Linked DNA regions of Homo sapiens. The protein of the gene in region 3 interacts with the protein of the main gene of each other region in a pairwise test. Each region holds a gene or a part of one and is shown on either strand. Other genes may lie near its edges. The genes, in order: TRIM23, PECAM1, ZNF20, KRTAP9-2, MTCL2, VWCE and VWC2L.

What was found.
Region 1: the proteins of ZNF20 (region 3) and TRIM23 interact in binary tests that used the Homo sapiens proteins (3 or more experiments, as listed by UniProt).
Region 2: the proteins of ZNF20 (region 3) and PECAM1 interact in binary tests that used the Homo sapiens proteins (3 or more experiments, as listed by UniProt).
Region 4: the proteins of ZNF20 (region 3) and KRTAP9-2 interact in binary tests that used the Homo sapiens proteins (3 or more experiments, as listed by UniProt).
Region 5: the proteins of ZNF20 (region 3) and MTCL2 interact in binary tests that used the Homo sapiens proteins (3 or more experiments, as listed by UniProt).
Region 6: the proteins of ZNF20 (region 3) and VWCE interact in binary tests that used the Homo sapiens proteins (3 or more experiments, as listed by UniProt).
Region 7: the proteins of ZNF20 (region 3) and VWC2L interact in binary tests that used the Homo sapiens proteins (3 or more experiments, as listed by UniProt).

The regions. Positions count from the first base shown.
Region 1 is NC_000005.10:65,617,454-65,622,073, reverse strand, and holds part of TRIM23 (E3 ubiquitin-protein ligase TRIM23), read left to right. Parts: intron 1-3,818; coding exon 3,819-3,981; intron 3,982-4,620.
Region 2 is NC_000017.11:64,380,493-64,385,112, forward strand, and holds part of PECAM1 (platelet endothelial cell adhesion molecule precursor), read right to left. Parts: intron 1-4,620. UniProt on the Homo sapiens protein: Cell adhesion molecule which is required for leukocyte transendothelial migration (TEM) under most inflammatory conditions.
Region 3 is NC_000019.10:12,130,043-12,134,413, forward strand, and holds the end of ZNF20 (zinc finger protein 20), read right to left. Parts: intron 3,944-4,371; coding exon 2,545-3,943; 3' UTR 1,308-2,544; downstream 1-1,307. UniProt on the Homo sapiens protein: May be involved in transcriptional regulation.
Region 4 is NC_000017.11:41,224,356-41,228,152, reverse strand, and holds KRTAP9-2 (keratin-associated protein 9-2), read right to left. Parts: upstream 1,506-3,797; 5' UTR 1,499-1,505; coding exon 974-1,498; 3' UTR 501-973; downstream 1-500. UniProt on the Homo sapiens protein: In the hair cortex, hair keratin intermediate filaments are embedded in an interfilamentous matrix, consisting of hair keratin-associated proteins (KRTAP), which are essential for the formation of a rigid and resistant hair shaft through their extensive disulfide bond cross-linking with abundant cysteine residues of hair keratins.
Region 5 is NC_000020.11:36,779,578-36,783,993, forward strand, and holds part of MTCL2 (microtubule cross-linking factor 2), read right to left. Parts: 3' UTR 1-4,416. UniProt on the Homo sapiens protein: Microtubule-associated factor that enables integration of the centrosomal and Golgi-associated microtubules on the Golgi membrane, supporting directional migration. Preferentially acts on the perinuclear microtubules accumulated around the Golgi.
Region 6 is NC_000011.10:61,292,214-61,297,468, forward strand, and holds the start of VWCE (von Willebrand factor C and EGF domain-containing protein precursor), read right to left. Parts: upstream 3,104-5,255; 5' UTR 2,825-3,103; coding exon 2,715-2,824; intron 1-2,714.
Region 7 is NC_000002.12:214,413,295-214,417,914, reverse strand, and holds part of VWC2L (von Willebrand factor C domain-containing protein 2-like isoform 1 precursor), read right to left. Parts: intron 3,802-4,620; 5' UTR 3,722-3,801; coding exon 3,332-3,721; intron 1-3,331.

The DNA.
Region 1 (4,620 bases), on a different chromosome or scaffold from region 3:
ATTGCTTGAGCCCCAGAGTTTGAGACCAGCCTGGGCAACATGGTGAGATCCTATCTCTACAAATAATAATAAAAAAAAATTAGCCAGGCGTAGTGGCACATGCCTGTGGTACCAGCTACTTGGGAGTCTGAGGCAGGAGGATTGTCTGAGCTTGGGAGGTCAAGGCTGCAGTGAACCATGCTCAGGCCACTACTCTCCAGCCTGGCTGACAGAGTGAGACCCTTTCTCAAAAAAAAAATAATAATAATAATAAATAACAACATAAAATAAAATATCTGATTGATTACAGTTTGATTTACAAGTAATAAGTTTGAAGCTTTTTTGGCATTTTTTGAAGTGTAAAATTAAGAGCTTTTTCCTATCTAGGGTTTTTTGCTGTTAACCACAATTCCTATTTATAGATACTGAGGAAATATTTTCTTGCTGTATTATTTACCGAGTTGATGCAAAATAGTCTAGTAACTTTATTTTTGGACCTGTGTTTGGTTTGCTAATCAATGGAATTTTATTAGTGCTTTTTGAAAAATACATTAACAGCATAAGGAAGTTCTTTTAAATCTTTGTATAGTGATGGGATCAGAGATACAGGATTGAAATGAACTAAACAATTTTAATATGGTTCTTTGGAGTTTATTGTCATAAATTTACTTTATTAGAGTATCATAATACAGCATTTATAAAATGTTGCATTTATTTTATATCAAATTCTATTGTGAATTTTTGAGACAGAGCCTCACTCTGTCGCCCAGGCTGGAGGGCAGTGGCACAATCTTGGCTCACTGCAAGCTCCGCCTCTTAGGTTCATACCATTCTCCTGCCTCAGCCTCCCGAGTAGCTGGGACTACAGGTGCCCGCCACCGCGCCTGGCTAATTTTTTGTATTTTTGGTAGAGATGGGATTTCACCACGTTAGCCAGGATGGTCTCAATCTCCTGACCTCGTGATCTGCCCGCCTTGGCCTCCCAAAGTGCTGAGATTACAGGCGTGAGCCACCGCACCCAGCCTATGAATATTTTTTCTATATTTAATTGAATTTTTTTTTTTTGAGGCAGGTTCTCACTCTGTCACCCAGGTGGGAGTGCAATGGCACGATCATGGCTCATAGCAACCTCGACCTCCTGGGCTCAAATGATCCTCCCACCTCAGTTTTTGATTTTTTTTTGTAGAGACAGGGTCTCGCTGTGTTGCCCAGGCTGGTCTTGAACTCCTGGCCTCAAGCAGTCCTCTTGCCTTGGTGTCCCAAAGTGCTGTGATTACAGGTGTGAGCCACAGTGCCTGGCCTAAAGAATTTGATAACGTGAAACTTTCCCCTTTTTAAAAAATGTAGGATAAATTGAAGTATGTGTATATATGAATAATAGACAGAATTATACGTGGATAGCTGTTCCCCAGTTGTTTGCCTTTTTCATGGGGAACCAGTGTTCCAATGTTACTGGTGTCCTATGTATCCTTCCAGGAAGACAATACGCTTATACAACAATACAAAAAAAATTTGCTCTTTCCCCACCTTTATGCAAAAATGAATATATTCTATTATTTTTCTTTTTGTTTTAATCATATGAAATCATTCTGTGTATATATGAAAAACTTCATCTTTCTCACTATCCTATATAGTTTTATAGTATTATGAATGTGCCACAATTTATTTTCCAAGCTGATATTGATGTATATTTACTTTCTTTCCAATTTTTTGCTAATGCAAATGATGCTTTAAGGAGTAACATACAGATTTTGTCACACGTGTCTAGTATGCTTGTAGGATAAATTCCTGCAACTAGAATTACTGAGTTATTTAAATTTGGTAAGTATTGTCAAGTTGCCCTCCATAGAAGCTGTATTGCTCAATAAACATTTCATAGCAATTAGTAATGTATGAGAGTGTCTGCTTTCCCACACCTTCACTAACAAAATGTTACCAACATTTTTGATCTAATCTGAAAAAAGTATTTTGATGTAGCTTTAATTTGCATTTTTCTTTCTTTATTTTTTTGAGACCGAGTGTCATTCTGTCACCTAGGCTGGAGTGCGGTGGCGTGATCTTGGCTCACTGCAACCTCCGCCTCCCAGGCTCAAGCAATTATCCTGCCTCAGCCTCCTGAGTAAACTGGGCTTACAGGCGCCCACCACTATGCCTGGCTAATTTTTTTGTATTTTTAGTAGAGATGGGATTTCACCATGTTGTCCAGGCTGGTCTCGAACTCCTGACCTCAGATGATCCACTCGCCTCGGCCTCCCAAAGTGTTGGGATTACAGGCATGAACCACCATGCCTAGCTTTAATTTGCATTTTTCTTATTATGAGTTAGATTGAACATCTTTTCACGTAAAGAATTTTCATCTTCTTTTCTCTGAACAATGTTATGTTTCTTATTTTTATTCATTTTTATCTTCCCAAACCCTTATTTACATTGAAGGACTAAATTTAAATTTCTTTTGAACCATGATAAGATGCAAAGCAATTATGAATTATCACTGTATGGTGAAAGATATTTGCATCTCAAGCACTAAGTCCAAGTTAATTGTAGAGTTAGGTTTAAAATCATAGTAGATTTAGTCTGATTTCTGCCTTGGGTTTTCTGTTTTTTACCTCGTGTTGTGTGTTTGATGATGGTGAGCTTAATTGTTTTTAAATTATTTTACTGGACTTTATGTAAGCAGTAGGTACTTGGTATTTAAAATACCCAGTTCCTGAGGGTTCTTTGGTCCAACAGGGAAAGACGGGCTAAAAGACCAAGGTATTAAAGTGTTTTGGGTGTTACGGTAGACGCTTATACAGAGTACATCGGGGCCCAAAGGACAAGTATAGTCCTTTCCTCAGTGTTAGCATGAAGAGACATGAAACAGTTTCTCATGTTCTGAGAACTATAAGCTGTTGGATATAGTTGGAGCATAGGGTCAGAAGAGTATGGCAGTGAAGCAATAGGACAGGGACCAGATTGTAGCAGGTCTTGAATGACAGGAGTTTGAGGTATGATTGAATAGTACAGTGTGGGTATTTTTAAAAAATTAATGCAAGGTATGAAACACTACAAATATACTTAGAAATAAGTGCTGAAAATGCTTTATTGCTATAAATACAATTTGTTGACTATTTGTAAAACATAAACTTATGGACTTGAGAATCAGAATATGCTGATAAATGGCCTTTCTTTTGACTGACTGTGTAGCCTTGTGCAAGTCATGTGTCTGTAACTAGAGCTAGAAAGACAAACTAGTTTCTAATTCAGAGCTATATTTATTGATAGAGAACAGGAATTGAAATTTAAGATGATTGCTTTTTTTGCCTTTGTATTATTTAATGTACATTAGATAGTAGAAGATACTTGAAAGTTACTTGCAGTCTTTTCTTAACAAGTTCTTTATCATTTGCAGGGGTAATTGTTATCTCAGTACATATTTTAGATTATTTTTGTTGAAATTAATGATAGTTTATTTGTGTTGAAATTAATGATGGGTTAGGTAGTTGCAGAGAAATTGCTTAAGAACCCACCTTCAGTAGAATTACATATTGTTTGTACAGATTCAGATGTAATGACTGAAATCATAATTTTCAAAAGATAACAAAGATGTTAATTTACAGCATCTTTGCCCCAACACTTAGTATTTCAAAGATATTTCATTATGATATAATTTTGACAGGGTCGGTCAAATGGAATGACTTAAAAGTGATTCAAGATTTTACAACCTACATAGTTTTTTTTTCATAGAGGAATAAAGTAACAATGTTGATTCAATATATTAGGTGAATTTTCTTATATACCTAAAATATGTATGCTTTTAAAATTGTTTAAAGAGCACATCCTTCCTTTTCAAATATTAGGTGCTAGAGTGTGGAGTTTGTGAAGATGTCTTTTCTTTGCAAGGAGACAAAGTTCCCCGTCTTTTGCTTTGTGGCCATACCGTCTGTCATGACTGTCTCACTCGCCTACCTCTTCATGGAAGAGCAATCCGTTGCCCATTTGATCGACAAGTAACAGACCTAGGTAGGAAAAGTATTTGTATGGATTTAAGATTGAAAATTGTTCATGTAATGCAAATGTCATAGGAAACAATGTCCTTCCACTTGATTTTTAGAATGATAAAATTCCCAGAAAGTTTCAGAAAGCCTAAGTTTCTATTAAGGTCAATAATCTTCAAGCTATAAACTATCTCACTCTTAGTTACTAATTTTATTTTATCTTCTGAGATGTTTATATTCAATACTTATCTGTAAAGAGCTTTAAGACACCTGAGAAAAACGTGCTACCCTGATTCAAATAAATAAGAATGTGTATCACAGAGTGAATCATTTGCCTGAAGCCATAAACCCAATAGAACAATGTTTTCTTTACAAATAAATAAGCCAATAATGAAAATACAGATAAGTCATTTGAGTCTCACCATGTTTTTATTTACTAATATCAAGGACAGAAGTGTTTGTAGCTTGTGATAATTACTCTTTATTTTCTGTTAAAATGAGTTTGAAGGGTTTGTGGCTTTTTTTTGCAGTTTTCTGTATACTTTTAAAACTTTTCTTTACGTATTTCAAACTAAGTTATTTTCAGATACCAGATTTGGAAATAATAGCATTTACTAACATTTGAACAGTTATTTTACAAACGTAAGTTCTGTAAGTTTACTCT
Region 2 (4,620 bases), on a different chromosome or scaffold from region 3:
TCCAGCATTTGGACCTGGGATTGAAAGTGACTATGTCTGGTATGCTTTCTTAGCCCCCCATCTATCTCCATGAAGTATGAATAATGCAATCATGGAATTTTTTAAAATTTTTGAGTGAATGGAGCAGTCCAATGTTTAAAACTCTCAAAGACAGATGACATGATATGTAAAAACCTCAAAGAGTCTGCAGACAAATTATTAGAAATAAATGTGAGTTTAGAAAGGTGGCTGGATAAGGCCAGGAATGGCAGCTCACACCTGTAATCCCAGCACTGTGGGAGGCCAGGAGTTCGAGATCAGCCTGGCTAACATGGTGAAACCCCGTCTCTACCAAAAATACAAAAATTAGCCAGGCATTGTGGCATGCACCTGTAATCCCAGCTACTTGGGAGGCTGAGGCAGGGGAATCACTTGAACCTGGGAGGCACAGGTTGCAGTAAGTTGAGATCACAACACTGCACTGGGCGACAGAATAAGACTCTGTCTGCAAAAACACAAACAAACAAACGAAAAAGAAAGGTGGCTGGATATAAGATTAATATTTTACAAGTCAGCATAGTGGTCATCTCTGGAGGGAGGGGCTATGGGGTAGGGAGAAGCACAGATGCAAGCTATTAAATGGTCTTTTGGGATGTTGGTCTGGGATGTTGATGAGATATTGTCCCTAATTTCACAAAGTGTTCCAACAGCACCAGGAAACACTGTGTTTATGCTGAACAACTGATTCATTTCTATCTTGTGGATTCTGAGAATGTTCTAATGGACCTTGTTCCTCTTTTTGCTTTGATTGTTAACACACAGCAAAAATTTCACCTCTGCTTCTAGCAATCTTTGGGATGCGTTTGTGCTAAATGGGCCATAGCTTTATTTCCCTGCCTTTATTTTTCTCTCATCCTGATTTCCTCATTAATTGTATCTCATTGAACAATACATAATTTTTATAAGTGGTCCCAAGTCATTTTTTTGGAATAAGAAAAAAGTTAGTTAGCTAGCTGGCCAGAGATACTGGCAGAACCTGTCCTTTCCCTCTCTTTTAACAAAGTTAGGCCTTTGTTGGGTAATTTAAAATTTAATCTTCAATTTTAAAACGAGTACTACAATTTGCGCCTGCTGCTATATTCTGAGCAATTAATTTAACAACAACAACGACAACAAAAATGGTGTCTGACCAGTCCATGAGATGAAACAAGGTGACGGTTTAAATTCAAGTCATTTCCCACAGCATTACTCTTTGGAACTCCCTTTTTTGTCTTTATATGCAACTTACAAGCTCCTGATTTAAGAAGCCTGCTGGATGAGCTCTCGACACACAACTTTCTTTGGACCAGCCGGGCACGGTGGTTTATGCCTGTAATCCCAGCACTTTGGGAGGCCGAGGCGGGTGGATCACTTGAGGTCAGGAGTTCAAGACCAGCCTGGCCAACATGGTGAAACCTCATCTCTACTAAAAATACAAAATTAGCCGGGTGTGGTGGTGGGCGCCTGTAATCCCAGCTACTTGGGAGACTGAGGCAGGAGAACTGCTTGAACCTGGGAGGCAGAGGTTGCAGTGAGCCAAGGTCATGCCATTGCACTCCAGCCTGGGAAATAAGAGCAAAACTCCATCTCAAAAAAACCTTTTTTTCCTTTGGACCATATTAATTTCTCTGCACTCCTCAATTAATATAGTTCCCTCCCAACCACTCTCTTCCCTCTCAGAGACAGTTAGGTCTCCTTCCATTACCTCTTCAGTACTTCCTCCTTCATTTTAAGCTATGCTGTGTATTCCAGTGACTCAACCAGGAGATACTAAAGAGCAGAAATCAAGTGCACGGAGCCAGACCTGGGCCAAATCTCATCTCTGCTACTAACAAAGCTGTGTGACCTTTGGCAAGTCCCTAAATTTCTCTGAGCCTCAGTTTGCTTATCCATACAATAGGCACAAGGAATGTAAGTATAAATGAGAACCTGAGTTTAATTACTTAAAGTAGAGTTCCTGGCACCTATAAAGTGCTTGAGAAATGTTAGCTAGATTCTTCCAGTTACAGAAATAAAGTCGACTCTTTTTTTATTTTTTAATTTTAATTTTTTAGAGATGGGGTCTTACTATGTTGTCCAGGCTATTCTTAAACGCCTGGCCTCAAGCAATCATCCCGCCTCAGCCTCCCCAAGTGCTGGGATTACAGGCATGAGCTGAAAATCAACTATTCAGAGCTTTAAAGCTGTGTCTCCACTACATGTTTCTAGGGATTTTTTTTTTTTTCAAATAAAAACCATATTTAAGGCTGGGCGTGGTGGCTCATGCCTGTAATCCCAGAACTTTGGGAGGCTGAGCTGGGCAGATCACTTGAGGTCAGGAGTTCGAGACCAGCCTCCTGGCTAACATGGTGAAACCCCATCTCTATTAAAGATACAAAAACTAGCCAGGCGTGGTGGCAGTTGCCTGTAATCCCATCTACTCGGGAGGCTGAGGCAGAAGAATCACTTGAACCTGGGAGGTGGATATTGCAGTGAGCCGAGATTGCACCACTGCACTCCAGCCTGGGCAACAAAGATAGACTCCATCTCAAAAAAAATAAACAAAATAAAAAGCATATTAAACATTTTCAGGTTAATTTAAAGCGACTTCTCCAGCCTCCCAGTTTTGCTCACTCCACTGCGTGCTCTCCACACGAGTCATTCATCTGCTCTCCTGTTTACTGAACGAGCTGCCCATCCCTGGCTGGTTATGCCCTAGACCAGCAGACAGTGCTGGGTACAGAAGGGAGTCAGACATACCAGATTCAAACCCGTGATCCCACAGTGCTTAGCTGGGTGATCTCGGGAGTTATTTAACCTCTCTGGGCCACCACGTCTCTGCCTACGAAGTAGGAACATGAATACCTGCCTTCTCTGGTATCTTTAACCTAAACAGTGACTGCGCCAAAGTGGCTGAGGGCACAGAAGGGGCCGTGTATATATTGCCCAGTGCCTGGCCTCTGGTTGACATTCTCTGCCTTCTTCCTTAGCACCATTCATAGCAAACATTTAAGGGGGTTTTTCTGTGCCAAGCACTGTCCCCCATACTGGGGGTTCAGAGAACAGTGAGGCTGGCAGTGTCTGCCCTTGGAGAGCTCATTCTGCACTCCACAACTCTTCCTACTCTGGGCCTTCCAGCCTCAGCACAACCCTTGCGTGAGCCTCCCACTAACCAGTCCTAGTTCATTTGATTTTTATAAAAGCCCTCCCTTTTTAAAAAACAATTTTAAAGCAAATTTGGCTAATGCACCAAGCAGTGGTTTTTCCAGTAGGGATGGTACCCACTAGCATGGGGCCCGTCCACCATCTTGTTTTTCTAAGCAACTCTAACACACATTATCTGCTCAAATAAACAAACTCGGCAGGGTGTGGCGGCTCACACCTGTAATCCCAGCTCTTTGGGAGGCCTAGGTCGGTGGATCACCTGAGGTCAAGAGTTCGAGACCCGCTGGCCAACATGGTGAAACCTAGCCTTTACTAAAAATACAAAAATTAGCCGGGCATGGTAGCGGGCACTTGTCATCCCAGCTACTCAGGAGGCTGAGGCAGGAGAATCACTTGAATCCAGGAGGTAGAGGTTGCAGTGAGCCAAGATCACATCATTGCACTCCAGCCTGAGCAATAGAGCAAAAACTCCATCTCAGAAAATAAATAAATTAACAATAAACGAACTCAATGGATGCACTGGCAGGAACACCACATTCCCATGGCTAGCTCGAACAGACAAGGGAGAAGAGAGGGCAGGATGGAAAAAAGAAAAGCATTTTATAAACTCTGTTGAGATATGAGTCTCAGCTCTTCATCTTAACACAAATATCATCGACAAAACAACAAAAACAGTGACCTAGTTTTTACCGCCACAACCACCACCACCTCCCTTGCTATAGAAGCCCTTCAAGATGCCCCCCCCAATGGTCCTTGCCCTCTGCTCATCACACTTACACGTGGTCACCTCCCACGTTAACATTAACCAACAAAATACTCCATCAGGTAATAAAAGACAATGCAGCTTTTATCCTGATCACTCTCTCTCCTGTCTGGGATCCCTCATTCTGGGGAATGCCAGCAGTCATAGCATAAGCAGCCCTGTGGAAGGTACCCAGGATGAGGAACTAAGGCCTCCAGCCCATAGCCACAGGAGTGAGCTTGGAAGCAGATTCCCCAGACTCAGTCAAGCCTTCAGATAACCGCAACCCTGACCAACAATTTATCTGCAATCTAATGAGACCCGGTGCCAGCACCACCCAACTCAGCCACTCCTGCATTCCTGACCCTCAGAAACTTCAGGATAATAAATCTGTGTTATCTTAAGCCAGTAAGTTTTAGGTAAATTGTTATGCAGCAATAGGTAACAAATATACCACGCAACCAAACTTCAAAAGTCTCTGCCTGATTCTTGTTTTGATAATATGGAAAACATTATCATCTTTCTAAATAAACCAGCCAAGCACAGCCAAACTGAATTACTGCCTGTAGGTCTCACTATTTACACAGAGTGACTGTTCACAACCTGGGGGACACAGCCCCTGGGAGGTGCATGGGTGGGTGTTAGGAGGCTCATCAACTACCTCCAATTGTGTGCAAATGTGTGCTTTTTCTGGAGAGAAGGCCCACAGATTTCCT
Region 3 (4,371 bases):
TACTAAAAATACAAAAAAATAGCCAGGCATGGTGGCAGGTGCCTGTAATTCCAGCTACTTGGGAGGCTGAGGCAGGAGAATCACTTGACCCCAGGAGGCAGAGGTTGCGGTGAGCCAAGATTGCACCACTGTCCTCCAGACTCTGTCTCCAAAAAAAAAAAATTCATATCTCACAAATCAAGGTATTTTCCATATGTCATCACACATAGTTAAGGTTTGGTCAGTCAGTGATTGCTTCTATGTCTGCTGGGACTGGGATTTTTACTCTAGGGAGACTGAAATAAGCTTTTGTGAAGAGAAGCACCCATGACACCTTAAAGGAAATGATCGGATTGTTCCATGCATGACTTTTCCACGATGTCATTAGCTTCATAATATTAGCATAAGAGGGTTCCTGACAAGTTTGCATCAACAGCATGTTACCAGAGAAAGAAAGACTTGATTGGAATAGTGATGCTGACTTTGTTCTTTACTGGGCAGGAAATTCAGTTTTCAAAAACATATTGGCCCCATAGGACTCAAGGTGATTTTTTTAAAAAAGTAGTAGCCAATTGTGGTGGCTCATGTCTGTAATCCCAGAACTTGGGGAGATGGAGACAGAAGAATCACATGATCCAGCAGTCAATGACCAGCCTGGGAAACAGGGAGACTCCATCTCTACAAAAAATAAATAAATAAAATCATAGTATATACCTTGATAAGAAGTGAATTTATAGATTTTAACTGAGGTATGTTATGGTTAACAATGTCCATAAATTGTAGGGAATATATCAGGGTTTAGAGAATAGTATGGTAAAAACTGGTCCAGAAGTCTGATGGCTGGCCTCCCCTCGCCAGAAGGCCGAGTCTTTTGCCCCTGAACAGGCACATGTCATACACCTGCAATGTGAGATGATGCTCTTCAGTGACCATGATGGATCAATACAAAAATAACTAATTCTTGGCAGGGCACAGTGGCTCATGCCTGTAATCCCAGCACTTTGGGAGGCCGAGGCGGGTGGATCACGAAGTCAGGAGATCGAGACCATGGTGAAACCCTGTCTCTACTAAAAATACAAAAAATTAGCCAGGCGCGGTGGCGGGCACCTGTAGTCCCAGTTACTTGGGAGGTTGAGGCAGGAGAATGGCGTGAACCAGGAAGCGGAGCTTGCAATGAGCCGAGATCGAGTCACTGCACTCCAGCCTGGGCGACAGAGCAAGACTCCGTCTCAAAAAAAAAAAAATTAAAATAAAAAAAAACCTCATTCTTTAACCATGTCTTGAAATGTGACAGAAGAAAACACTTTAAATTGCAAACATACCCCAAATTTTTCTCTTCTCACGAAATGTGACTATCTTTTAATATCTCACACATCTCACAGTCATCTATGGCTTTTGGTCATATTCATTACCACAGTATATTATTACACCCTCTTTGACGACACTTATGCCACTGGTGGTCTTTGGTCAGAAGTCACTCATAAGAACATGAGATCACCTTTGGTATTTAGAATAGATGAAAATTCATGATCCAGATAAAAACTAAGAATATAAGCATGAAAAGTAAAATCTACATGAGGAAAAATATGCCTGACATCCACATGGCAACACTGACTCACAGTGACCACCGGATAACATGGTAACATTATCAACTTGATCTAATACATGATGTTAATGGGAGGTTGTAATGTAGCTTCTTCATTAAAAAATAATAATTGTTAGTATGCAGTTGTTATAAACAGTTAATAAGCTTATTTCTAAAATACATGAACAGAAGTATTTGTTGCCAAGAAACCGCATTAGTGTTTTTAGTCAGGTATACTCATACAAAGTTAAAAACGAAGTGAGACATTACATTCAGTTGTGAATAACAGCAAATGCTTGAAATTTCCTGATAAGAGCAAGGTGGCTCTTCTCACATAAAAGCCCTTGGTGAGACCAATCACTGCACAATGCAGCAGAGGAACAAGCTCCCATCTAGTTGGTTTAATCAAGAACAGGCTCGCTAATCCGTAGAAACAACAATGCTTGCAATACAAAGTAGACCTCTTAAACCAACTCAATCTATAGAAGAGTTGGGCATCAGTGAGTATTTCCAGCCATAACAACATTTATTAGTTCTCTGGTAAACATTTTAACATTTCTGAAGAAACAGCAAAGTGGGCATGTATCTTTAATGTGGAGCACTGGGGACATATCTGGAGACCTACAACTCTGAGGAACAGAGACAAGTGATTTGGGGGATATTCTCGATTAACAAGCCAAAGAATCAGGAAAATGGGCTGGAAGCGGGTAGCCACACACCTCTCTCCCTGTGTGGGGCCTCTAATATGTGACTGATGCCTTCCTTTTCTGTGCCTTTGAAATCTCATGCAAGATTGGCTATAGGTGAATTGTATTACGAAACCATCCAAGTTCTTCTAGATTTTATTGTCCTATCGCAAGTCTCTCTTCTCAATTCAAAAAGCAGTTATCCAGAGGTTCTTTCACCACTCTCTTTTCTTGTGTTTCAAAGGAAGTGGGACAACAGAAAGCTTCTCCCGTTGCTTCCACTAAAAGGATTTCTCATCTATTAATGGTATGAGTTCTTTCATGTTCTCGACATGAACTGGCACGAATAAAGGCTTTGCCACATTGCTTGCATTGATAGGGTTTCTCTCCAGTGTGAGTCCTTTCATGATATCGAATGTAATTGGAAATAAAGGCCTTACCACAGTGCTTACATTCATAGGGTTTCTCTCCAGTGTGAGTCCTTTCATGATATCGAATGGAACTGGAACAAGTGAAGGCTTTGCCACATACCTTACACTCATATGGCTTATCTCCAGTGTGTGTCCTTTCATGTATATGCAAGGAAGAGAAATACCTGAATGCTTTTCCACATTGCTTACATTCATGGGGCTTCTCTCCAGTGTGCGTCCTTTCATGTATACGCAAGGAAGAAAAATACTTGAATACTTTTCCACATTCCTTACATTCATGGGGTTTCTCTCCACTGTGCGTCCTTTCATGAATTTGAAGTTGTGAAGCACATCTAAAGCCTTTCCCACACTGCTTACATCCATAGGGTTTATCCTCAGTGTGTGTCTTTTCATGCCTTTGAAGGTCCGAGGTACATCTGAAGGCTTTACCACATTGCCTACATTCATAGGGTTTCTCTCCAGTGTGAGTCCTTCCATGCTTTTGAAGGTGTGAGCCACATCTAAAGGCTTTCCCACACTGCTTACATTCATAGGGTTTCTCTCCAGTGTGAGTCATCTTATGATACTGAATGGAACTGAAAGAAATGAAGACTTTCCCACATTGCTTACACTCATAGGGTTTTTCTCCAGTGTGAGACCTTTTATGTCTACGAATTTCACTAGGAAAACTGAATGCATTCCCACATTCTTTACATTCATCGGCATTCACTCCTGTGTGAGTTCTTTCATGTACTGGAAGGGTAGTGGAACGAGTAAAGGCCTTACCACATTGTTTACACTTATATGGTTTCACACCAGTGTGAATTCGTTCATGGATAAGACATAAATTGAGAAAATAGAAGGCTTTCCCACAAAACTTACATTTATAAGGTCCATCTCCACTGTGCATTACCCTGTGTCTTTGAATGCATGAATGGGAAATGAAGGTTTCTGTACATTCTTTACCATCATAGGGTTTCTCTTTAGTGCAAGCTTTATCATGTGATTGAAAGGAGTCAAGATAACTGAAGGCTTTCTTACATTCCTTATTTCTATATGGATTCTCTCCATATTCCTGATACTCAGATGACTTGTGTCCAGTGTCAGCTCTGATATGCGTATTAAGAGATGAATGACCCGTGCCAACTTCTCCACACACACTGCTTTCACATGGTGTTATTCCAGGAAGAGTTTTCCTGTTCAGCATGTCATCTGCAATCTGGTTGAAGCTTTCTCCACAGTGATGACTTTCTTTACTTTCACAGAGTTTCTCTCTCATAAGACTTCAGTGAAAAATGAGAAGCACATTATTAACGGTTTGATTAAAAGTGACTTATAGGGCCGGGCACAGTGGCTCACTCCTGTAATCCCAGCACTTTGGGAGGCTGAGGTGGGCAGATCACCTGAGGTCAGGAGTTTGAGACCATCCTGGCCAACATGGTGAAACCCCGTCTCTACTAAAAATGCAAAAATTAGCTGGGCGTGGTGGCAGGTGCCTGTAATCCCAGCTACTCGGGAGCCTGAGTTGGGAGAATCGCCTGAACCCCAGAGGCAGAGGTTGCAGTGAGCTGAGATTGCGCCATTGTGCTCTAGCCTGGGTGACAAGGGCGAAACTCTGTCTCAAAAAAAAATAAAAAAATAAAAAAGTGATCTATATTGGCTGGGTATGGTGGGTCACGCCTGTAATCCCAGCACCATGGGAGGTTGAGGC
Region 4 (3,797 bases), on a different chromosome or scaffold from region 3:
CTCAAGCATCTTTTTGATGCGGATGAATTGAATGATTGGCTGGTCAGAGGCTGAGACAAAAAGATCCCTGCATTCAGGGCAGCCATTAAATGCAATCCCTGCTGCCATGTCATGCAGCTGTTGCTCACTGAGGTGTGGGAAAAAATAATTTGGGATTTTTTTGTGAATAAAAATATTATTTGCAAATATGAGAGATTATTTCTCTCATTGTTAAATAAACTCAAGTGCATGTCTTGCTAGTGCTGACTTCCAATGTCATTTCTACTATGTTGAGAGTTAAATGTAAGTGTCCTTGGGCAGAAAGAGAGGACCTCAGCTTGGATCAGAATCTGTCCTTTATTAGCTACATAACATCACATATTAATTTTTTTTCAGGTGAAAAATGAAGGTAATAATGCATGACCACCTGTTTTGAGAATCAAATTGGATAATAACTATGGTATGTGATATGTGTGTAAATCCCATATCAGGAGTGCTTTCAAATAAAACAAAACACTATATGAGATGAGGATGGTTCAGAATTTATTCAGAAACATATAGGTAAGGATTTCTGCTACCAGGGACACAACACAAATTTATCATGAAAAGAAGAAAGAAGGATACAAGAACGATGAGGAGGATATTGAAAACAAAAAAAAGATTGCAAAGATCATCGATCAGTTGCAGAAACCTAAATTCCTTAGAAGCAGGGAATGAAGCTCTTGACTTTAGAGTCAAAGCTGAGACCATGACTCAAACTTGAGAACAGATGAAGCTGGCACATGATCCACAAGGTGTAAGGAAAAAGAGAATCAGGATGAAGTATTCTGCCCTCCCTCAAGCAGATTTCCAAGATTTTAAACATGTAGAGAATTCATAAAAATTTGGGTGAGAGCATGGTGGCTGTCAGCAGCAAATTAAATTAGTCCCCCAAAAGATGAGTCAGTTGAGCAGAAATTTGTTGTGTGAGGATGGTGGTTCTCTTGGAACGTGATCAGCAGCAAGAAGGCTGGCAGCAGCTGGACACACAGGTGGGCTGGAAGCAAGTGGTCCTGCAGCAGGTGGTCTCACAGCAGGCTGGGCGGCAGCAGGGCTGGCAGCAGTTGGAGCCACAGCTCTGGTTTAGGCAACCAGGCAGGCAGACAGTCGTGGGGTAGTAGCAGGTTCTTCTGCAGTACACAGGTGCACAGGAGCTGCTCTGGCCACAGCTGGACCCACAGCTGGTTTGGCCACAGCAGCTGGACCCACAGCAGGTGGGCTGGCAGCAGGGTGTGCTGCAGCAGGAAGGCTGGCAGCAGCTGGTCACACAGGTGGGCTGGCAGCAGGTGGTCCTACAGCAGGTGTTTTGACAGCAAGTTGGGCGGCAGCAAGGCTGGCAGCAGCTGGACACACAGCAGGCGGGCTGGCAGCAGGGTGTGCTGCTGCAGGTGGTCACAGTGGTGGGCTTCCAGCAGGTGGTCCTGCAGCAGGTGGTCCTGCAGCAGGTAGGCTGACAGCAAGGGGAGCAACAGTGGGTCATGGTGTCAGGGGTGGAGGGTGGGCTTCTGTTCAGAGGTGAGTTTCCCAGAATCTGATGACCCCTTGCAATCTGGACCTTTTATACATCTGGCCTCCAAAGTTTCCACCAATCAGCAGGACTTTTCCTTGTTGTTGTTTACACTGTTTTCCATACTCCCTTTGCGATTGTCAAAGGGGAAGTTGTTTCTGAAATCTTATGAATCTTTTGAAAGTAAGGGTTTAATCTGTTTCTTAATTGAGAATTACTCATAAAAACTTTGTTTCAGATAAAAGGAAGGCAGTCTCATCACCAGCATCATTCCTGCTCTGACCATCATCTGGTCATGTGATAGTTCCTGGTGATCCGGGAAGCAGATAGTTCTCTCTGTCCAGCCTCATGGTTGACTGTATGTAGACTGGGAAATGTCTGTGGGCAGTCGCGTGATGCTGTTATGTTCACAGTGATGCATTGAATCCGTGCCCGGCACCAAGCCTATTTACCCACAAAAGTCTGATTCAAGAGTAACAAGCATCTTTCTCGCTACAAACTATTCCACCTGTGTCTTCCAGTTCTATTACACTCACTAGGGAAAGGGTGTTTGGCACAATGTATTCCAAAATGCAGAGCTAGACCAAAGCAGGTGGGTAGAAAAAGGAGTCCACTGGGATTCAGAAAGCATCGAGTGTCTCTGTGATGGTGTTGCCATTTACCCTGATTTGCCTGGGACTGAAGGGTTTACCAGCATGGGACTCTCTGTGACGTAAGTGCTCTAGATTCGGGCAAATCAAGCTGAGTTCTGGTCCTAGCTTGTTAATTCTAATACTTTTTGTATTTTTTTTTGGTGTGACAGAAAATTGCACATGTGCAGTCATGACTCATAAAAAATAGTAATAGTTTTCTTCGCTTTATAAGAGTATTTTTAATCTTGCTTTTTTTTTGGCCCTTGTCCAGGGGTAGACCCTCCAGGGCAATGTCTAATAGAATGGTGTAGTGTATATCTTTTTATATTCGTTGGATAGAAAGGAGAACTCTCAGTATTTCACAATTAATTACGATGCTTTCTGTCTTTTTTGTAGATTCATTTCATCATAGCAACAGGTCTTGTTCTATTCCTTATTTTCTGAGAGACAGAAAACTGAAAATGTACTGAAATTTACAAAATGCTTTTTCTTTATAAGCTGAAATAATGTTATGATTATTCTACCTTTTCAGTAAGTGTTGTTTTATTCTATGTTTTTTGAGACAGAGTCTTGCTTCGTCACCCAGGCTGGAGTGCAGTGGTACAATCTTGGCTCACTGCAATCTCCACCTCCCGGGTTCAAGAGATTCTCTTGCCTCAGCCTCCTGAGTAGCTGGGACTATGGGAGCACACCACCATGCCCAGCTAACTTTTGTATTTTTAATAGAGACAGAGTTTCACCATGTTGGCCAGCTGATCGCAAACTCCTGACCTCAAGAGATCCACCTGCCTCGGCTTCCCAAAATGTGTTATTTTAAAAGTTGATTAATGTTCAAATATTAGCCCAGTCTTGCATTTCTGAAAACAATTCATGTGGTTACGATCATATGTATATGCCATTGGATTTTATTTACTTATATTTTGTTTAGGATATTTACTATCATTGCATTCCAAAAATATATTCTCCTATTCTTACTCTATTTCCTCTACCTTCTCTAAGTAAAGAAATTCCGAATATAGCAAAATTCCTACCCTTCTGTGCCCAATTTGACCTTGATGTGACCCCCTGTATTGGTTTTTCTAAAGGCAATTTCATGCCCCATGAAATACTCTAGCAGTTCTATTGCAGAGTGTGGGCTTGGGGATCAACAGTTCTTTTTTCAACAGGGGCACTAGACTATCCCATGGGTCCCTTTCAAACACACACACCCCATGGGGGGAACTCCCAGGAGATACTTGTAGCCCAGTTGTAGTCTTTCTTATCTACTTTGACAGAAACAATGAAGTCTAGCCCAATTATCTGAAATCTGTACTTAGTCATTTCTACAACAATATTGTGTTAATCTAGAAAACGTGAGTGAGGAATTGTCTTTAATCTGCAACTCAAATTATAGGAGGAGGAAATTACATCAGCATATGTAGGTATCAGTTAAATTCATTGAGGAGAACCTGGGGGAAAGTGTGATTGGTGGATCCCAAATAACGAGACAGTGGTATCAGATTATCACTTGATTAACAAACACATAAAACATGAGAGCCCATGCAGCTCTCTAACAACAGGCCTATTGCACTGAGTTTTACATGTAGATTTTTGAAGAGAGTGGAAAGTAAACACTGAGTTTCCTGAGAATATAAGTAGAC
Region 5 (4,416 bases), on a different chromosome or scaffold from region 3:
GGCAGGGCTGGTGCCTCCTGATGCATTGGAGGAAGAGGCTTTTTTTTGTGTGTGTGAGAAAACACAAAATAAATAAACACAGAACCAGGACACCACCACATTTGAGAGCAAATATCAGAGTTGGGAAACCACAGACGCGGACAGGAAGGCTTCCCTGGTAGGAAGCAGGGGGACAAGAAGCCAGTTACTGAGGTTACGGGAAAATCCGCACGAGGCAGCAGTGCTGGGAAGAACATCCTGGGAGGACTGAGGGCTGAATACTATAGTGAGCTCCGGACCCAGAAGAGGAAAACCTGGCATGGACCAGGGCCACTCCATTTGCTGGCAGGAACCAGCCAAGGAGAAGAGGAGGCAGGAGGACAAGAGGCTTTGGAGGGAGATGATAAAGAAAGAATGGGTGAGTGGTGGGAAGCAGACTGAGCCCAGAGAAAGGAAGGGGCTAAACCAAGATTACAGAAAGTCAAAGCAGTGTCTCATTCACTACTGGGGATGCAAGACCTGTTAGGAGTCAGGAAACCTGGGTTCTGGTCTTGGCTCTGCCTCTGGTTTGCGATGTGACCTTGGGTGAGCCACTGCCTTCTCTGGGCCTGATTCCTCATCTCAAAAAATGAGGGGGCTGGACACAAAAGGACAAATACTATATGATTCTACTTAAAAGAGATACCTAGAATAGGCCAATCCACAGAGAAAAAAAAAAAGTAGAATAGAGGTTACCAGGGACTGGGGACAGGGGGAGTGGGGAGTTACTGTTTAGTGGGTACAGAGTTTCAGTTTAGGATGATGAAAAAGTTCTGGAGGTGGCAGTTACACATTGCAAATGTACTTCGAGACACTTAGAAATCTTTAAAATGGTAAATTTAATGTTATGCACATTTTGCCATCATTCTTTTAAAAAGGAAGGGGTTTAGACCAAATTATGTTATGGCCTCCTTGCTATTCATGAAGACTAGTGAAGGGGGTGAGGAGAGTATTGTCCCCCACCCCAGGGCCAGGGCACTGAAAGGCTGGGCTGGGGACACTGAGTGTGATCAGATCACTTTCCATTTGTGTAGAACCTTACACTTTTCCAAGGAGACTCGCAGGCACAGTGTTGCAGTTGGTCCTCACCACAGTTACATGGGGTGGGACATTATCCTCACTTTACAGATGGGGAAACTGAGGTATAGACTAGAAACATGATCTCGCCAAGGTCAATCACGTTGGTGGATTATTTATTTTTTTAAATAGTCACCTGGAAAACATCCTTGCATCTTAGGTTCACCCGTTGACTCACCAACTGGCTCAGTGGCCCTTGATGAAAGGATACATGCTATAAATTAGTAGAAGAGTTCGTCTCCTGGGGCCAACATGCTTGCTTCCCATAATTGGATGATAAAAATTATAAATCCTGATGTGTTTCTCTTTTTACCAATGGCTGTCAGGAAACTCAAGAGTAAAACTTAATTGCATGATTATGGGAATTACACCAGTTAGATTTACAGAATAATTTCTCTTGCTTTTTTACTTCTTATTTTTATTTTACTGAACCCCTATGATTAAGATTGTAAATAGCCTCTGATGCTTTTTGAAAATCCTGAGTAATTAAATCAGTTTGGTTGAGGACTCGATCCCTTAAGTCCCTGCTCAGTGCTCTTTTTAAGATACAGCATCATGTTTATTGGTTAAAAGAAAGATGAGGCTGGATGCCGTGGCTCACGCCTATAATCCCAGTACTTTGGGAGGCCGAGGTGGGTGGATCACCTGAGGTCAGGAGTTCAAGACCAGCCTGGCCAACATGGTGAAACCCCGTCTCTACTAAAAATAAAAAAATTAGTCGGGTGTGGTGGCACACACCTGTAATCCCAGTTACTCGGGAGGTTGAGGCAGGAGAACTGCTTGAACCTGGGAGGTGGAGGCTGCGGTGAGCTGAAATGGCGCCACTGTACTCCAGCCTGAATGACAGAGCAAGACTCTGTCTCCAAAAAAAAAAGAAAAAGGAAGATGACCTGGCACGGTGGCTGATGCCTGCCTGTAACCCCAGCACTTTGGGAGGCTGAGGAGGGCAGATCACTTGAGCCCAGGAGTTTGAAACCAGCCTGGGCAACATAGGGAGACCCCCTGTCTCTAAAAATAATAATAATAAATAATAAATAAATAAATAAATAAAATAAAAAATAAATCTAAAAAAACTTAAAAAAAGAAAGATAGCCTAATAATCAGGGCCACGAACACCAATGGTGTGGCCAATAGTGCCTAAGATCCCCCGGGGAGGGCTGGTTTTATTTTTTATTTTTTTTGAGACAAGTCTCATTCCGTTGCCCAGGCTAGAGCGCAATGGCACAATCTCGGCTCACTGCAACCGCTGCTCCCCACCAGGTTCAAGTGATTCTCCTGCCTCAGCCTCCCAAGTAGCTGGGATTACAGGCATGTGCCACCACACCTGGCTAATTTTTGCATTTTTAGTAGAGACAGGGTTTCACCATATTGGCCAGGCTCGAACTCCTGAGCTCAAGTGATCCACCCGCCTCAGCCTCCCAAAGTGCTGGGATTACAGGTGTGACCACTGCACCCACCCCTCAACCCCAGGAGAGTTTGTTAAACATGCAAATTCAAGGTGGGGCCCAGGAATCTACATTCTGAACATGCCCTCAGAGAATTCTGCTGAATGGGGACCTCAGATCACCCTCTGGAATACACAAGGCTCAGTGATCTAGAATGGACTTGTTTTATGCCTGGGTTGGCCAGCAGCATATTCTGGGTATTCTGGACCCACCAAAAGCCCCCAGCAGGGCAGCGGATTTGCACAGCAAACAGGACAGAGTTGGACCCAAGTTCTCATCTAAACTCAGTGACTTCTCATGCTCTGGGATGAGACCTGTACCTCAGTTTCCTCACAGCAAAATGGGCGCACTAACCCATGTCCTGCCAAGGCTGCCTCCCAGAGTTGTCCCTGAGAGGTCTGAAGGAGATGTGGGGTGGGAAACGATTTCTTTTTTGAGATTGGGTCTCACTCTGTCATCCAGGCTGGAGTGCAGTGGCGCAATCTCTGCTCCTGCAACCTCCGCCTCCTGGGCTCAAGCGATTCTCCCACCTCAGCCTCCCGAGTAGCTGGGATTACAGGCACGCACCACCATGCTCAGCTAATTTTTTGTACTTTTAGTACAGACAGGGATTCACCACGTTGGCCAGGCTGGCGTTGAACTCCTGACCTCAACTGATCCGCTCGCCTCAGCCTCCCAAAGAGCTGGGATTTCAGGCGTGAGCCACCATGCCCGGCCAGGGGAAACGTTTTCTATATAGTAAAGTGCTTTAGGCGGGATGTGCAGGGGATGATGATAACCATTGTTATTACTATTATTATGGAAGAAGTAGTGGGAGCTTGGGGGGTCTGGTGAGGCTAGAAGCAGGGGACATTCTAGATAGGAGGGGAGAGGGAGAAAGAGCCTGGACGCTGGGTGGGCCAGAGGAGAAGAGGCTGGGTGATGAAACCATAAAAGTGCATGCGGGTGGACATGATGGAACCATGTCAGCAAGGGTGTAAGAGGGTCAAGTCTTTGGGCCCTTGGCCTTGTCACATCGGAAGCCAACCGGTAGAAGAGTGCACCTGGGGACACCTAGAGGTGGGACCCATCTTGAGTTCATAGAAAGCAAGACCTCTTAGAGGTCAGCCTTTGGTGGGAAATAAACTGGGGGAAAGGGCTGGCACAGGGTCAGAGGATTGGATTCTGATGTCTCGTGTGTGCAGGCCTAAGAGCCACTGATGCACCAAAATGACTTGATTTGCATTCCAATGAAGTCATCATTCCAAAAGGGGCTGATTTGGCTCTGGAAAGAGGTGAGACATAAGAAACATGAGGTTTCCCAGTTTAGGGCCATCATGCCAACTGGTCCCCCATTTCCGCCAACCAACTGATGCCAACCCCATGGACCCAAGCCAAGTGGTCTATGGGGGATTGAGCCCCGAGGGTTCCTTGGGACTTTGGTTGAAGAGAGAGTGGAGATGGGGAAAACAGAAAGAAGGATAAAGGAGGAGAAGAAGGGAATAGCAGTAAAAGGCAGAGAGGCAGGAGGAAGGGGGAGAACGGGTTCGAGAAGGGCAGCATTCCTTCTTGGGACCCCAATTCTCCAGGGAATCCCCACTGTGGGTCAGGCAGTTTTCTGCTTTGGGAATGTTACCAAGACTTAAAAGGCATTTGAAGAAACCAACAAACTTAGAAATCACATTCCAAAAGAGTAGAGAATTTTTACAAACCAATCCCCCCACCCCAAAAAAGAAAACAACCAGTTACCAAGTAAAATGCTAAAAACCGAACCAAACCAATATTTACATGTAACATTTTCAACCCCATCCAGCCCCACGTCCAGAGGCTTCTGCAGGAACAGTGATGAGTGGCCTTGCACAGTGGCATGCAGGAAGTAGAAACTGGGGCTTTACTG
Region 6 (5,255 bases), on a different chromosome or scaffold from region 3:
CCGTCTCAAAACAAAAAAAAAAAAAAGAGAGAGAGAAAGATTCTTCCTCAGACACACACTGGGCTTCCTCTCTCCCTTCACCCAGATCTCTGCCCATGGCACCTTCTCAGAGAGGCCTTCCTTGTCCACCCTTACCTTGCTTTATTCTCCACAACATTTACTTCCTGTGACATTAGATTTTAATTTATTAATTCATTGTCTCCCCTACAACTCCCTGATGACAAGGGTTTCTTATCTATTTACCCCAGCACGTACAGGAGTGCCTGGCATGTAGTAGGTGCTCAATAAATGGCTGTTGAGGGAAAGGTTGAGAAGGGCAATGGCATAGGTGACATCTCTTGGGTGGGTGTGGGGTCATGAATGAGCTGCCCAAAACTGGAGGCAGTAGGGGTCTGTTCAAGCAGGAATGAGGTCCAGAAAGGGCAGGAAGCCAGATGCATCCAACTGGTGCTGGGTGCTGAGTAAGGCGTGACCATACAGCCATAAACAAACTACTGCCCCCACCTTCAAGGAAAGTAGGGCAGACCAGGAGCTAGGTGATAACAGCATAGAGTGACAAATGCCACAGTGGGACAGACTGTGGAGCCCTGAGGAGGGTCAGGGGGGGTTCCTGGAAGGGCAGCATCTAGGCTGAGGTGAGAGAGAAAACTTTGGGAGGCCAAGGCAGGCAGATAACTTGAGGTCAGGAGTTTGAGACCAGCCTGGCCAACATGGCAAAACCCTGTCTCCACTAAAAAAAAAATACAGGCCGGGCGCGGTGGCTCACGCTTGTAATCCCAGCACTTTGGGAGGCCAAGGCGGGCGGATCACCCGAGGTCAGGAGTTTGAGACCAGCCTGACCAACATGGAGAAACCCCGACTCTACTAAAAATGCAAAATTAGCCGGGCATGGTGGCGCATGCCTGTAATCCCAGCTACTTGGGAGGGTGAGGTAGGAGAATTGCTTGAACCTGGGAGGCGGAGGTTGCGGTGAGCTGAGATCACGCCACTGCACTCCAGCCTGGGCAACAAGAGCAAAACTCCATCTCAAAAAAAAAAAAAAAAAAAAAAAAAATTAGCCAGGTGTGGTGGCATGTGCCTGTTGTCCCAGCTGCTCGAGAGGCTGAGGCATGAGAATCGCTTGAACCCAGAAGGCAGAGGCTGCAGTGAGCCGAGATCGCACCACTGCACTCCAGCCTGGGTGACAGAATAAGATTCTGTCTCAAAAAAAAAAAAAAAAAAAGTAGGGCAGCCAGCAAAAGAAGAGGAAGGGAGAGGGTGTTCTAGCAGGGGAAACAGCACAACTGCAGGCCTGGAGGGGGACAGAGAGGACAACTGCAACCAGCTCCAGTCATGGACTGGACAGAGGGTGATGAAATCCAGCCTGGTTTGAGCTTCCAACCCCACCGCAACAGAAAAGGGACAAGAAACCCCTTCCCAATGGTGTTCCACCAATGTTCAGAGCGGAGGGAAGATGATTCTGCGAGGCAGGCACTTTGTAAAGCACCCACTCTGCGCTGGGCACTGGGGACATGGGACAAGGCAAACTTAGCGTGTTCTTGGGGAGAAAAATCTGTGCCAAAATGTGACAAGTATTCCGGAAAGGGAAGCTCAGGGTGCAATGGCAGCACACAAAAGTCTGAGGAAAGCTGTCCCTGGGGCCTTTTTCCCTCTCTGAGGTCATCACAGAAGAAAGGGGGGGCCCTCCTGCTGGCGGGAGCTGGCAGTGAAGTCTCATCCACCCCCTTGCTGGAGTGATTATGGCAGCAGCCTGAGAAGGAGGGGACCGGGCGAATGAGCGGAGCCTTGGGACTCTCAGAAACGGACAGGCAGTGCCACCAAGGCGGCAGATAAAAGGGTGCCCAGGGAGGCTGATGGAGTCGAACTCTCAGGTGGGCAGGGACCGAGCACCCGCCAGAGCGCCCTAAGGAGCCTCCTAGGGCTGGTGACAGAGGGACAGGTGGTGGGAGCCTGTGGAACGCCGGGGAGTCGGGGCAGGTTCTGAGCAGGAACTGGCGGTGGCTGTGGAACACACGTGTGAGCTACAAGCCTGGCCGGGCCGCCCCCGCTGCGCGCCCCCCGGAGGACGTGGCCGCGGGCCAGGCCGCCTGCTGACACAGTGTTCCCTAGCTCCGAGCATCACGCACACACGCGCACGGCCCCACCGCGGCCCGGGGGAAAGCACGTGCGGAGGGCGGCATCCATCGCGAAAGACAGCGGAGGGGCATGCACCCCACCCCCACGCGCGCACACGCACGGACAGAAAACGAAAAGTGACCCAGAGACCCCGGCTGTTCCAAGGTCCATGAAGTTCGTAGGGCCAAGACCCAGGGAAAGCCCCGCGCGGCAGGGGAGGCCAGGCGCTGCCCGGGCAGAGCCACGGGCACGCTGGGGGGTGAGCCAGCCAGTCCGGAGACCAGATGGCACGTCCTGGGCTCCCCTCTCCAGAGGTCCGCGCTCCAGGGCACATTAGGAGTCACCCAACGCCTGGACCTCCGATCTCCCAGGTCCCAGTCTGGACAGCCCCAGCCAGGGGGGCACGATGAGCACCCGCCTAGAGGCACAAGTTGCTGACTCTTTGTGCCGTCCCCGAGCTGTGCCCGCGCTGATAGCACCCCAGAGGAAGCCCCGACACGCGGCTGCCTGCGGCTCCTGAGCGCCCCTCCGCGCCTCTCGACTGCACGCCGGTAGCGCTCTCCCGGGCGGGGGAGCGGGGAGGAGCTCCGGGCGCTTACCTCTCGGCCGCGAAGTGCCCGGGCGGCTTCCTCCCGGTGTAGCCTCGGGCTGGTGCCCCCGGCAGCAGGAGCGCGACACAGGCGGCCCGAAGGAGCAGTCCGGCCCACATGACCGGCGGCGGCGGGTCCCCCGGGCTGGGCTCGGCTCCTGCGCCGCGCGCGGGAGAGGGGGCTGCCGGCCCTCGCCCCTCCTCCTGGCGCCGTGGGGAGCGAACCAGCGATCCCCGAAATGGCACGCAGAGCTGAGCAGGGGGGCTTGGGACGCCGAGAGGAGGGGCCGAGGGCCGCGAGGGGACGCGGCGGACGATTGTGGGGAGGGTCTCTGGCACCTCGAAGCGAAACACACAAAGGCAACGCCGCCCGCCTGCTGATGCCTCTCCGAGAGGCGCGGAGCCCGGGGCGGGGGCAAAGATCAGGGACCCCTGGGGGCGGGGTTTCGCCCTCGGCCCACACCCCCTGCCCCGGTTTGGGAGTCGGCTTCCTGCGAAGCGCTGACTGAAGGCGTCAGACCGAGGCCCCGGGAGGAAACAGACTTCGGGAACAAGGCTAGCACCAGAGGCTGCGCGCCCCGGGCATGGCCCCTGTCGGTGGGACCCGAGACGCCTTGTTGTGACGAGGTGGGAACCGTGGAAATTCGAACCCACGACGCCAGGTCGCTGTGCCGCTGAGCAGTTCTAGGCCTGCCCCCAGCCTGCCAGAAGGTCTGCACCCTAACGCCGGAGTGCGTTGATCTGTGGGTCCAACCGCTCCCTGGCCTGGGGCCCTAGCCACTTTTGAAGCCCCGGGCTCCTCTGGGCACCCAGGGGGCAGATGGCCGGCCTCCCGACTGCTGGTGGCAAGACCAGGAAGCAGCTGGCGCCGTTGGCAGTGGAGAGGCAGCAGCAGATCTGGAAGGCTCCTCTTTGCCCCTTCTGCAGCTGCCCCAGGCCGTGGTCAGAGACTGGGGGGCTGCCTAGGGATTTAGGCAAAGAAGGGGTGCGGAAATCAAAATCATCCCGCTGGGAGAAAGCTGAAAGGATAACTGATTTTACCTTCTGCTCCATGCAGTAATCTTTCCCTTAGCCACCCACAATTAGTCAAGATTTTGCTTAAATACTTCCAGGGGTAAGAAACTCACTATCTGTTAAGAAGCGGCCCAATCCAGTTTTGAACCACATTTGTTTTAAAGTGTCTTCACTTCCCAGTTGAACAATCCCTGTTCCTTTGGCCTTCCTGCTACCTCTGCCTTTACTGAGGTGCTTAACATTGGTGGCCACAAATGGACATGGCGTACCAGCGGTGGCCTGGACTCGTGCCTCCTTCCTGCAGACACCATACTTTTACTAATGCACCCTAATATTACGTTTTTGGCAACCCCATGATGTTAATTATGACACATTGAGTTTGCAGTAAAGAAAAACCACAGGTGGCCGGGCGCGGTGGCTCACACCTGTAATCCCAGCACTTTGGGAGGCTGAGGTGGGCGGATCACCTGAGGTCAGGAGTTCCAGAACCAGCCTAGCCAATATGGTGACGCCCCATCTCTACTAAAAATACAAAAATTAGCTGGGCATGGTGGCGGGCGCCTGTATTCCCAGCTACTCAGGTTGAGGCAGGAGAATCACTTGAACCCAGGAGGCAGAGGTTGCAGTGAGCCAAGATTGCACCATTGCACTCCAGCCTGGGCGACAGAGCAAGGCTCCATCTCAAAAAAAAAAAAGAACGAAAAAAAGCAGGCATTTTTTGTTGTGCTTTTATGTTATTTAAACACAAGCTGCCAAGTGGTCTCCCTACCTGAAGCTGTGTGGCCCCATTTTTTTTTTTTTTTTTTTAGATGGAGTCTTTCTCTGTCGCCCAGGCTGGAATGCAGTGGCACGATTTCGGCTCACTGCAACCTCCATCTCCCGGGTTCAAGCAATTCCCCTTCCTCAGCCTCCCGAGTAGCTGGGACTACAGGCGCACATCACCATGCCCAGGTAATTTTTGTATTTTTAGTAGGGACGGGGTTTCACCATGTTGACCAGGCTGGTCTTGAACTCCTGACCTCAAATGATCCACCCACGTCAGCCTCCCAAAGTGCTGGGATTACAGGCGTGAGCCACCGCACCCGGCTTGTGGCTACATTTTTGCAGACATTCACCTTGAGGCCGTATCTCACCTTGTTTGTTTTGGCCCATTTTCTTGTCAACATATTCTCAACAAGTAGGAGCCAAAATATTCTGTAACATAAGATGAATGCAATTTCCGTCATATCCATTCTGAGTCCCAAGGACCCTCGGAATCCTAAGGCATCTTTCTCTCTTGCCCCAAACATCTGAAGGTTACACTTTCCCCCTCCACTGCCCCTAAACCACCAATGTCAAATAGGTGCTCTTTTTTCCTGGCCCTAGGGGAGCTACCCAAATTTTCAACAGGCATACACAGAACAAGTGTCCACATGGCTTCCATATTTCATGCCATCTTCTCACACTCCAGCACACCTCAGCTACCTCTGTTCTTAGCTACATTATGGAGCCCCACCTGCTCCACCTCACCCTGTAAAACTCACTCCCTGGCAGAGTT
Region 7 (4,620 bases), on a different chromosome or scaffold from region 3:
TTGTGCTTGTGCACCTCATTCTCTTTTTTTCTGCAACAGACTTCCTTCCTCCACTATTAATTTCTCTTTACTTCTATTCAATTCTGTGCTTGGATATAGGACATTCATTTTTATTTATGTTTAACTAGGTCATCTATGTACAGAACAATCCGCATTTTATTTCCTATTATTCTTCAGATGAATCTAAATATTTTGGCCCAGTATTCAAGGCCCTTCCATCCACTCTCCACCGACACATATCTGAATTTGCCTCTTACTAGGATAGCATTTTAGTCATATCTAGCTTCCAATTATACCCATCTCCCTCCTCTTTGCAGACTGTATTCATCCCAATCTCTGATTTTGCTCTGGCAGTTTCGTCTTTGGAATTTCAGTCTTCCCAGATCAATTTCAAGTACTTCTTGAAGAACAGGCAGCTCTACAAGATGTATAGGGTTAGCATCCTGAAGACAAATCTCTTGCTTAACCAAGCCTCATACTATTTTGATAAGCTTCTGCCATCACAATCTCTTGGGAGTTATATTGGGATTTCATAATCATATACTTAACTTTTACCTGCTTTTTCCCCCTTCTCTCTTCACATCGATCATGTCTTTCTTGTGAGCAGAGATTTTGGTTTCTAGATATCCTACTTTCAATTGTAAGTACGTCTACAGTATCTTATCTACTGAACGGTCTGATAAATGCTTGTTGGATGAATATATTTATGTGAAGATTATCTCATAATACAACCTCCCTAATTGACATATCAACATTATTATATGAAAGTTTTATGCATCTTTAATAATTAATGACTTGTTCCTTGCAAGCTGAGTTGGAAGAGAATCAAGATGACAGATTATGGCTAATATTTACTTAGAGTTGTATGGTTCATAGGGATAAGTAGAGCATTTTAAAAAGGTATGAGAATTCTTCATTTGAAAGTCTTTTAAAGTTGAACTTTCATTATAAAATGTAGGCAAAGCCATAGAGGAATTTAGAATTTAGAGTAAATCCCTGGATATTAGAGTTAAGAAGGAGGGGACAATCATTTATTTAATACCTATTGTGTACCCGTCATCACAAGGTTAGTGACTTCAGAGAAATTATATGTTATTAAGAATTTCCAACCTCTCCTCCTAAGGAAAGTGATTATTACAATGGCTATTTTATGGTCAATACCACTATGGATCAAAAAGTTTAAGAACTCCATTCAAAAATTTATATCCAAGTGATGAATTTGGGATTCGAATCCAAGTCTATCTGACCTTAGTGACAAACTGCTTTGAGAGATCATATAGTATGTTAGAATGGCAGCATTTAGAATTAAGATAAATAACTTGACAATTTTGGATAAGTAATTTATACTTTTTTGGTCTCAGTTTCTCATTCTGACACATTTGCCCTATATAGTCTCTAAAACTCTTTATGACTCTAAATTCTTGTTAAAAAAAGTGATATCTATTATTTTAAAAATCACATCAAAAATTTTATGACACAAAAAGCCAGGTGAAAAAGCTGTGCATATTAATGGATCATACATTAGGAAAGAAGTAGTAGGGATTAATTAGATTATAGTAGGGTTATAACGAGAAGGGGTACAGAAATTATTAACTTTTTCTTTAAATACCTCTATATTGTTTGACATGGTAACATAGTTATTATCTTTGTAGTAAAATCTAATAAATAGAGGGAAAACTATAGCATTTTCAATAGTGAGTTAAGTTAGACAATATTTTCTTTATTAAATACAGATTACCAAATTATATAAATCTCAGAAACTTATGTTTTTATTTGTGCTAGTTATGAAACGCTGTTCCTACAATACCCTTTTGTATTCTAGTCTAGATATAAATGCAGGTTAGAAAAGGGTGATATGACTGCTAGAATCAAGTGTGTTGAGTACTTCTACTTACTTCCATTAAGATGACATTAAAAATAGGTAATGTCAAAATATATACAATATTTTAGAGATCATAAAACCATTAATAAATGTACTCTACTCTCAACTATTATTTGGTGTCAACAATGATACTTTTACTAGACTCTCATGCTTTTACTTCTTAATTTTGTGCAATAAAATAATACACGAAAGACAAAAGTCGAGAATAACATGTCTAAGGAAGTTGAATGTCACAATTAAAATTTCCCTTTTGTCCTAAGGAATCTAGTTCCAATGACTGGGTATTCTTGGGTAAATCAGAACTGGCTTGAACCGCTAACCTGGTTCATTCCAGGTTAATAATGAACTAAATACAATTAACTATGAATACACAGATTATGCTAATGATGATCAGTTGAGACCTTTTTTCTACATACTGATTTCTGGCACCATTTGACCCTTGTGGTGAGAGAAGTTGGGTCAGTGCTAATAATGGAAATGTCTTCTCTCATACATAAACACCCACACTGAAAACTAGCTATATCTGCTTTTACCTCTAAGGTTCTGAGCACCTCATCACAGAACTTGGTTAGATGAAATGGGAACATTTTATATAAAGCCATCAGTATGACAGACACTCCAGGCACAAACTGCCATTACATTTAAGGTGGACATTTTTCATGTATTCATACCTTCAGGGTTCAGATCAGGCTTGTAGGATATCCCAATTAAAACTAGCCATTGGGGAAAAGAAAGTTCAATAAGGGATAAAAATGAACTCTAAGCTACTTTGAAAATATGACGCAAGCGTAAAAGAAAAACTAAAAAATACCAGGTAGGCTGAAAAAAATTACAGTCTTTTTTACTACTCTTTACATGGATTGTGATAAAAATTCAGTTCTCTGTGGAATCCTGAAAGCAAAAAATCCAGCGAGCAGAGAACAGAATGGGGATCTTGCTTGACCACAAGTAGGCCCAATGCATTTTCTTAATATGAGGACCACAGCTAAGAAGTATATCTCTGTAGCTTTTCCACACAATAAACAAATAATTCTAGACTATATTGTTAAATGACTTCAAATACAGGCTAATAAGCAACACACAAAACTGACACAATTAAAAAATTAATTTAGGAGACACATACACTATACACAAAATTGTTCCCATCAGAAAACATATTTTGTAATAACAGAGAAGAAATGTTTAAGGGCAAAAATAAAAGGTGTTAGGTATGCCCCAAATACTTCTGGGAAAAAAAATAAAGGTTATTGTGCAACTTAACAAATATGATCAACAAACCAGTTGGCCATTTGTTGACCATGGTGCTACTTATGGTAATTAGAATCAAATTGTATAATTTAAAGGGAAATTTTAAAGTACATTTTTCCAACTCTGACTTTAATGTAGCAATGTACTAAGCACGTGGTATGAAAAGTTGATATTTCAATAAATATGGAGGGTAACGCATACCTTAAATTCCTCCAAGATTTTGTAATTTTTCCCGTGATATTCACAGAAGTTTTTTACTTCTTTGCACTCAGGACAGCATCCATTGTGTTCCACTTTAGTACACTTTGGGTGAATTTTAGGGCATTCTGGTTGGTCGCAAACAGGTCCATCTAGAGCACAGACACATGGACAGTTGGAATGCCCAGGGAAAAATCGTTCTCCCAACTTGTATACAAAGCCGCTGTCATCGACACACCCTTTCCCTCGATAGTCATCAAAGATCAGATTGTCATTACTGGAGATCTGGTCACCTTCATCAGCAGGATAGTCTTCATGACTGATAGCAGCAGAGGTGACCAATCCAGGGATGACCAACAGAAGTATGCAAGCTTCATGAATATGAAGAGCCATCCCCCTCTTCAAAGACTTCTGGATGTGCTCCTAATATTAAATATACTCAGCTCCTTCCATGGGAATACAAGAGGGGTAGGCTGAAAATAAATATTTAAAAAGAATAATTTGACATATATAAAGTGAAGATAGATTCATTTAAGCCCACGCTCTTAAACTGTTTGGGATCAATTTGAAGATACTAAGTCCTCAAATAGACTAAGTTCATGCAACTATCTGTGCCTTATTGTGAGGTTTGGAGAGTTGATACTTGGCAATATATGCATTAAAATTTGTCCTTTTGGATTATTTTATATAGGAACCTTCAGCTTGAATTTTCCTTCTGAATTTCATAGGTCTGGCTTTATCTAAATTGCAAAGAAATGGTTTTACTGAGCCCCAAAATGTGATCCAAGGAGTAACTTACAAATAGCTCAAGAATATTTGAACTCACATTTTCTATTATTCTTTAAACTGGACTAGTCAGTGATGGAACATATGTTATAATTATCTGTGTCAACTCAAGAGATTAGTGAGAAAAAAATCTAATTCTAAAGGAAAGGGAATAAACCAACAGTTGAATATAAATTATATTTAGGAAGGAGCTACTATAAAGGATTTCCTACTTATTTATGCCCATAATTAAAGAACAACAATGGCGTCAACATCAGTTACCTGTTTAAGTGAATGTGAGTCTGGATTTTTGAAATAAAGTTGATAACAAAAACAACATAACTATTCCATAGTGATTAAGAGAAAGAAAATTTGAAATAATAAATAATACAAGAGAATTCCATGTGCTTAAAAGAGTTTGTTAAAAACAAATTTATTTGTATTATTGTCCACATTATTTTACATAGGAAGGAAGCTCCTAGTGGGCAGGAAAGATCTATCTATAAATTTACTTCACAGTAACTTGA